Regions from separate parts of the Homo sapiens genome. Here all the other regions are linked to region 1. The links come from fine-mapping of genetic effects on gene expression. A gene starts in region 1. Each other region holds a variant in brackets. All regions are shown on one strand. Distances are from middle to middle. Region 1 holds the start of TMEM39A (transmembrane protein 39A). Region 2 overlaps ARHGAP31 (Rho GTPase activating protein 31). Region 3 overlaps ARHGAP31 (Rho GTPase activating protein 31).

Region 1 (2,763 bases):
TCAAACGAATGTTCCCAGTGTCTACTACTTACGTTATTCGAATTAAAGGACTACTCAGACTCTAATGGGTCAAAAGCCTAAGTTCTGATCTAAGCTCTGTTCAGCTTTAGGCAAGTGATGATTTGTGTCTTTTGTCAACTGATTTGTATCATCTGTAAGATATTATAATCAAATAGAAGTTTACAAGAAACATCACACCTTATACATTTCCAGCTCAATGTTTCACACTTAAACTACTTGAAATATAGAAGAATTGGCACTTTATAAAACATTAGGTTTTGTTATCAAGGGATATGGCTTGTGAGCTCAGATGGTCACATATTATCTGACCTTATCCGGATAAGTTAACTTCTGAGTGTGTTCTTCTGAGTGTGTTTCTTCAAGGGGGGGGGGCGGGGGGGGGGAGTGTCCCCTGTTCTGCAGAGGTTGTCAGGACTGAGGAAGTGGAATGAAAGGGTACCAGTAGTTCTTTTAACAGTTTAAAAGTAAAACTGTTCGAGTGGTATCTCTATATGTTAGGGTTAAAATATTGAAAGAAACTCTTCAAGGGGATGCCCGCTCCAGAAAAGCTGGTGTAAAATCATACAGAAATTACTGAAACTGCAAGATTAAGAAGCAAGTAAAAGATAAAGATCCTCACTGGAAAAAAAAAAAAAAGCTCTTTTCATCATTCTACGGCAAAAATCATGATTCTGTCAACATGGATACCAATGTTTCCTAAACAATACAACTAAAACCCAAGGATGACACTGGAAAAAACCCGTGTTTTCAAATGCTCCCTATTCCTAACAGCCTTCGGCTGTAAACTAACCCCAAGTCAAACAAAGCATTCAAACCGCTGGATGCAGGGGCTGCTGGTCCTTGCTCCATTAACAAGCAAAGGGAAAGAAAAGTGCAGGGAAAAAACTGGGACGGAAGAGGTGAGAGTATGCGGTGTGGTGGACTGCAGGAGACCACAAACTTCAACAGACTGGTCCCTAAGAGAAGTCGGCAGAAAGGTAGACAAAGCAGTCTCCGCCGCACACCCAAGAGGGCCGAGGCAGGTCCAGGACAGCCGGACCTTGGGGCAGCTCAGTAATACTCACGCATGGAAGAGTCCCAGCCGGTGGGGCGGGGTCCCTAGAAAGCGGCGACAACTTTACAGACTGGACCCCAGGTAAGGGAACTCCCTCCCAGCGTTGGAACGCTGCAAACCAGCTGCTTGGACGCAGGCAGCCCCCGCCTAGAGAATCAAGAAAAGGTGTCCAGGCTTCGGGCTGCCAGACTCAGACCCAGACTCCGACGCAGTTCCAGTGCCAGAGCTAAAGCTAGAGCCAGAGCCTGATACTTCAGCACCCATCCCTAGCCTCCATTACCGCGGAGCTGAGCAGACGTGGCAGCGCACGGCGATGACGTCAGCTACGCGACCGCGGTCTGCCCCAGCCGCGAGTGCGTCCCCGGAATCAGCCGGCACGACAACCCCTACCATTTGCACCTGCGCAGTGGGGCGCGCCTTCTCCTCTTAACTCGCGGTCCCGCCCCTTCCGGCCAGTGTTGGCCAAAGCATTTCCTCTTTCGGCCTCAGTCAGCTAGCGGCTGCTAGGTGCGGGCACCATGCTACTGATCCTTCTTGCTGTCTCTTGGACTCCATGTAGTAACCATGTACAAGTTATCACCGCCATTTTACAGATGAGTGTAGATTAGGAGGTGTCACCTAGGGTCACGTTACTGCTAAGTGAGGGAGCCCAAGTCATGAAGTCATGCGTCAGCATCCAACCCTGCGCTTATTGTTTGCTAAGAACTAGACAGATGCTGTGGTTACAAAGCGAATACCACAAAAGCTCAGAGTCTAGTGGAAGAGAGGCGACACTAAGAAAATACAGTAATTACCATTTGTTACAATATTAAAAGTGTGTCCAAGGTCCAGAGATAGCATGTAACACTAACGAATTCTGTGGGATGGTGGTGATGTCAATACCAAGAAAAGCTTTGCAGAGAGCTTGGGGTTTCAGCCAAGACTCCACAAAGGCATAGGGGCTTTGTGGGAGAATGGCAGTCCTCCTGGAGAAGTGGCAGATAAAAAGGTAAAGATCTGTGAGCAACGTCATCTTGAGTTCAGGAATTGACAATAGTTTGGTATTAGAAGAAGATAAGAGTGTCAAAAGGAGCATTTGTGTAATCTTTCACTCCAGAGATTTTAATCTCCTTAATAGAAAGTTGTTTGTATTGATTGAATGATTAACCTTTATTAAGAATTTTGTTGTGTCAGGCACTGGATTAGTAGCTTTACACATTTCATTTAAATCTCACATTTTGATAGCTTCTACTATGGTTATTATTTTACAGAAGAAACTGAAGTTAAGAGAAGTTAAGTAGCTTGTTGAAAATAGCCTGCCTGGCCAGGCAGGGTGGCTCATGACTGTAATTCCAACACTGGGAGGCCAAGGCAGGAGGATCACTTGAGCCCAAGAGTTTGAGACCACCCTGAGCAATATAGTGGAACCTTGTCTCTATGAAAAAAGTAAAAAAATAAATCGGGCATGGTGGCTCACACCTGTAGTCCCAGCTACTTGGGAGGCTGAGGTGGGAGGATCACTTGAGCCCTGGAGGTCAAGTTTGCAGTGAGCCGAGATTGTGCCACTGCACTCCAGCCTGGGCAACAGAGAGAGACCCTGTCTCAAAAATAATAATAATAATAATAGAAAAAAAAGAAAATAGCCTGGCTAATAAGAGCCAGAACCAGAATTTAGAGCCAGAATGACTGATATCGAAACCAGTAAAGTT
Region 2 (2,763 bases), 52 kb before region 1:
ACATGTCTTTGGAATGTAATGACATTCAATCCCAGAAGCAGCACAAGACCTGCTTGTCATACCCCAGTCCCAAATATCATGATCAGTCACAGAGTCCAGCCTTCTTCTTCTGGACATCCTGGATGGGCAGTTGTCTACACTTATTTCCAAAACAATAAATATTTCCAGGATCCATTCTTTCCTTCCGTGGGCTCTGGAGAAGTTAAAATACAATGCTGGAGCTGACTAAACCTTGTCTACTTTTTAGAGGTGGAATTTTCCAAGAAGGTTTTTATGGGATGTCCTTCAATAGAAAGTGTGAGGAGGTTTTCCAGGGATACCCAAGGAGGAGTCCTGCATTTGAGAGGCAGCTCTGTGACCAGAGGAGGGCACCAGAAAGGAGGATGCCTTTGAACTTGCTTCCAGAGTCTTGATTTTCAGGACGTGCACAAAAGAACCATGTGCTGGGAGTTAGGGCAGAGTGGAGTGCCATGGAGGCCTCAGGATGGCTGAGCTAGGGTCTCTATAAGATATATTGGCATTTGTTGAAGGGGAAAGATGAAGAGATTCATATGGGGATTGATTGAATTATTACAGGGAGGACCCTGTAGGAATGAATGGCATTGCTTTGAGAAGCAGGTAAAGTTAGTGCTGGAAAGAGAACCGGGTGGATTCAAGGGAACAAGTAAAGGCATCAGTTCATTCATTCATTCAAAACATGTATTTAACATGAACTTTGTGCCAGGCACTGGCATCACTGTAGTGAACAAGGCTTTAACCATCCCTGCCTTCTTGGAGCTAACAGCCTAGTTGGGAAAAGATTGAACAAGTAATTCCTGGGGTGCTATGGAAGCATGGAGTGCATGGGAGCACATAGCAAGAGGACCCAACCTAGTCAGAGGGAGGAGGCATGCCACAAGGGTCGGGGAAAGCTTCTCTGTAGAGTGCATATTCAGGCAGATAACTTAGATGGAAGAAAGGGGCAGTGGGTGGACTAGGAAAGGAGAGACCTCCAGGCAGAAAGAATAAGATGTGCCATGAATCCAAGGTAGAAAAGAGCATTCCCATTCAAGGAATGGGAGCAAGGCTGGGATAGCTGGGCTGGAGAAAGTGAGACTCAGGGGGATGCAGGAGCCAGGACTTCTTGGAAGGGATTTGGGGTTTAACCTAAGGGCAATGGGAAAGCATATGAGGTGTTCAGAATTTTGTCTTTAATGGGTCATTCTATTCTGTGTGGAGAATGGCTTGAAGAAAGGAGGCACGAATGCATCAGGAGGGGAGTATGTGGTAAGCCAGGAGAGAAAAGCTGGAGGTGTAGACTAGTGTGGGGCCATGGGGATAGAAATGAAGGGCTACAATCACTATTTAGAAGGTAGAATGGACAGGACTTGTTGAAGGATTAGATAAGGGCTGAGAAAGAAGGAAACGTCAAAGGCACCTCATAGGTTTCTGGTTTGAGCAAAGAGATGCACTGTGGGTCC[A/G]CTTACTGAGAGGGCAGAGTGAAGTGGAAGGGAGTTTAGATGTTCATTTGTTCATCTAAATTTATGGTTTCTCAGTATTGATTTCTTAGTAATATCCCAGTTAATGTAGGTGCTGAGGAGAGTAAAGAGATGAAGCTGTCCCCGCTCCGAAGGAGGGCACAGTCTAGTAGGCAAAATAGAAATGTTCACAAATAAATGCAGTGTGGTAGAAGCAGATTAATTTTGATAAAGTAATCCCACAGAGATATGTGAAAGAAATAATCCAAAAGAAAACACTGAATCCATTACAGTTCAGCAGACCCTTTATTGAGCCCCCATTCACAGTATACCAGGCACCTTTTGGCCTTGTTGAATCAAAGATGAATAAACACAATCCTGACCTCAAGAAGCTCACAGTCCATTGGGAATAATAAGACAAGCATTAAAGTAACTGTAATATGAAACAACAAGTGATTAGAGCTAGGTGAGAAGGGACGAGAGGTCAGCAGCAAAAATTACTTTCACAAAGGCCTGTGCCATCCCAGGATGGAGATTCGTCCCCCGGCTGCCTCGCCCTGGGACAGAATTAGGCCTTGAGGCAAGAAATGAAAGAAATTGGGCCAGGCATGGTGGCTCACACCTTTCTGAGCACTTTGGGAGGTTGAGGCGGGCGGATCACCTGAGGTCAGGAGTTTGTGACCAGCCTGGCCAACATGGTGAAACCCCATCTCTACTAAAAATACAAAATTAGCCGGGTGTGGTGGCACATGCCTGTAATCCCAGCTACTTGGGAGGCTGAGGCAGGAGAATCGCTTGAACCCGGGAGGAGGAGGTTGCAATGAGCCGAAATCATGCCACTGCACTCCAGCCTGGGTGACAAAAGTGAAACTCTTTTGTCTCAAAAAAAAAAAAAGAAAAGAAAGAAAGAAATTGAAATTGGTTGTCCTGGCCCTGAGCAGGCCTCCTTCCATCCTTTTCCTGTCTATAGCTTTGGGCCTTATGTAGGGAAAGGGAGGAGTCTAGAAGGACAAAGGGAAGCTGGACTTGAGGGGAGACAAGGACAGCAAGCAAGGTGGAGGAGTAGGCAGTTCCACAAACCACAACAAAGAAATCCCCATCATGTTAACAGTGGTTATCTGTGGGGAGTAAGGATGTATGATTTTGATGTCTTTGTATTTGCCTTTATTTTAATATGTATTCATATTTTTTTCCATGTGAAATATGTATTTCCTTGGTAATAAGAAAAAAGAGACTGGGCGTGGTGGCTCACACCTGTAATCCCAGCACTTCTGGAGGCCTAGGTGGGAAAATTACTTGAGCCCAG
Region 3 (2,763 bases), 69 kb before region 1:
GTCCCCTTGAAATGACAAGTTAACAAACTAACCCCTTATGCCTTGGTTCTTTTAGGCGAAAGCTCTCCAGTAAATCAAAGAAGTGGAAATCAATATTTAACCTGGGACGTTCTGGATCAGACTCCAAATCAAAACTGAGTAGAAATGGGAGTGTATTTGTGAGAGGACAGAGGCTCTCGGGTAAGAATCAACAGCAATTGTTTTATGATACAAATATTTGTTTCCTAACTCTGCTTATTAAGTCTTTGGTTTGATCATATCAAACACACTAGCTCTGAAAGAGAAACTTATAAATTAACTAGGGGAAGAGGAGTCTTTTTTCAAAACATTTTAGACTTACCAAAAAAATTGCAAAAATAGTACACAGAGAACCTGTATACCCTTCATGCAGCTTCTCCCAATGTTAACATCTTATATAAGTTATCAAAGCCAAAAATTAATATTGATACAATACTCCTAATGAATTTGCAGATCTTATTCACATTTGGCCAGCTGTCCCACTACTGTTCTTTTTCTGGTCTAGGATCCAATCCAGGATCTCACGCTACATTTGGTTGTCATGTTTCCTTAACCTCTGCCAATCTAGGACAATTCCTCCATCTTTTTGACCGTGATAACTTGGAAGAGTACTGGCCATTTGTTTAGTAGAATATACCTCAGGGAGAGTTTGTCCAGTGTTTTCTCATGGTTAAACTGAGGTTAGGAATTTTTGCAGAAATCCTACAGAAGTGATCCTGTGCCAGACTCAGTGTGTTATATTAGGAGGTACATGATGTCAATATCTTATTGCGTGTGAAGAGAACTGTGATCCCTTGGTTAAAGTGCTCTTTGTCATGAATTTTAGGATCCTCTGATGGTTCTTGGATGTAACAATTATTCCTATGGCATTTGCTAAATGATGATTTTCTATTAATTGGAATTCTGCTGAAAAGACCTGTCCCTTCTCCCCCAGGGTCGTGATTTTTAAAGAAGGATGCTACCCCATGGGACTTATTTCTGAGTAGTGCATAGAAATTGATACAGGAAGGAACTGAGGGAACCATATATAGTGGGGAATTTAACCAATGCAGCTGAATATTATGTCAGGAAAGAGAAGACCAAGGAAATTTTTCATAATGATCTTTAGTGTTATAGATTGAAAGTATGATAAAAATGGAGGCAATAGTTATGAAACCAAGGTGTAAAAGAGAAATGTACAAATGCAGTGAGCAAACTTTGACTGGATCCTGGAAAAAAAACCAAAAAAACAAAAAAAAGAGCTGACCGAGCACAGTGGTTCGTGCCTGTAATCCCAACACTTTGGGAAGCTGAGGTGGGCAGATCACTTGAGCCCAGGAGTTCGAGACCAGCCTGAGGAACATAGCAAAACCACATCTCTAAAAAACAAAAATAAGAAAAAACAACAAAAGACAATTTGGGGAACAAAGAGGGAAAATGTGGATATAGAAGATATTAAATGATATTAAGGAATTATAAATTTTCATAGTATGCTAATGGTTCTTAGGAGACATATACTAAAACTAAAGTATTCAAGGATGAAGCAGCAAAATATTGACACTTT[A/C]AAATAACTAGCAAATTATAGGTAGGTAGATAAATATCAATATAGAAATAGATAATGCAAATATATGGCAAAATGTCAATAATTATCAAAACTAAGGTGGTAAGTTTAAGGGTGGTAGGTTTCTAAATGTTTGAAATTTTTAATAGAGATTTGGGGGAAAATTAATTCCTATAGGAAATATGTGAGATAATATTTTTAACGACTTTCCTCAAACCCGGTGATAATCACATGCCAAGGATCAGGAAGTCCAGATGTTAGAAACCTTCGTGTTTGCCTGTTAGAGTAAGGAGGGGTGTCACAGTACAGCAGTTACAACGATTTAGGCTGTAAATAATGGCAAATCAATTCAATCAACTTATGCAGTGAGGGAATTTACTGGCTTCTGCAGTTGAACACCCTGATAGAGGGAAGGCTTCAGGGGGTTTAATACAGGGGCTCTGTCATGATTTCTCCATGTTTTCCCCAGCTGTCCCAGCTGTGTCCCCCTTTGGGTCAGCTTCATCCCCAGACTGGCTTCCTTTGCTGTGGCAAAGTGGCTGTAGTAGTTCTAGGCTTTCCCTCTGACTATCCCACTAGGTCCAGAGGGAGAAAGAACATTTCTGGTAGCTTGCTCCTAAGAGCAGGGACCCTTCTTTTCCAGAAGGCCTCATCAAAATTCCCCTTGTCTCGGTATCCTTCACTGAGCCACATGGTTCGGTCCCTGTTGTCAATGGTGTGCCTTGTGCTGATTGGCTTCAGCCTGGGATCCTGAGCCAACCCCTTGCATGAGGAATGGGACTTACACCCAAGAAGTACAAGAGCTATGTGCGAAGGGCAGAAGGGAAATGGATTCTGGGTCTGCATCTGTAATCATCGTATGGCAAAACTCAGCTTACACAAAATGGAAAGATAGCCTGAATGAAGAGGACAGGTTGCCACAAGTATGGCAAGACAGATGCAAATCAGAAAATAGGATTCTTAAGGGAGAAACTGGGGAGAAGAGTACCTGACCAGAAACTCCTAATCTATGAAAAGAGATTTGCTTAAGCACGTCAAAGAGAGAATTTCAGTTGCAGAATCAGTGGTACAGCCATGAAAGAGGTTCACCAGTAATGAAAAGTCAAAAAATAACAAAACAAAACAACAAAAAGGAAATAAGTGGTTTGCTTTGATCTTAGGAAGATTTCCACCCCCATGTGGTTTTCAAAAAGAACAATTCCCAG

Evidence for each region.
Region 2: its variant is fine-mapped to the expression of TMEM39A in sun-exposed skin (GTEx, PIP 0.90).
Region 3: its variant is fine-mapped to the expression of TMEM39A in tibial nerve (GTEx, PIP 0.95).

Annotation. Positions count from the first base shown.
Region 1 is chr3:119,462,251-119,465,013 of GRCh38, forward strand. It overlaps TMEM39A (transmembrane protein 39A), which reads right to left and starts at 1,365. Exons shown (of 9, transcript NM_018266.3): 1 at 1,086-1,365. RefSeq lists enhancers at 1,036-1,525, 1,556-1,615.
Region 2 is chr3:119,410,053-119,412,815 of GRCh38, forward strand. The region is part of intron 11 of ARHGAP31 (Rho GTPase activating protein 31); the gene reads left to right. Among named protein-coding and RNA genes, the nearest start is that of TMEM39A, 52 kb to the right of the region's middle. The variant A/G (reference allele first, on the strand shown) is at 1,461.
Region 3 is chr3:119,393,412-119,396,174 of GRCh38, forward strand. It overlaps ARHGAP31 (Rho GTPase activating protein 31), which reads left to right. Exons shown (of 12, transcript NM_020754.4): 8 at 56-180. Among named protein-coding and RNA genes, the nearest start is that of TMEM39A, 69 kb to the right of the region's middle. The variant A/C (reference allele first, on the strand shown) is at 1,562.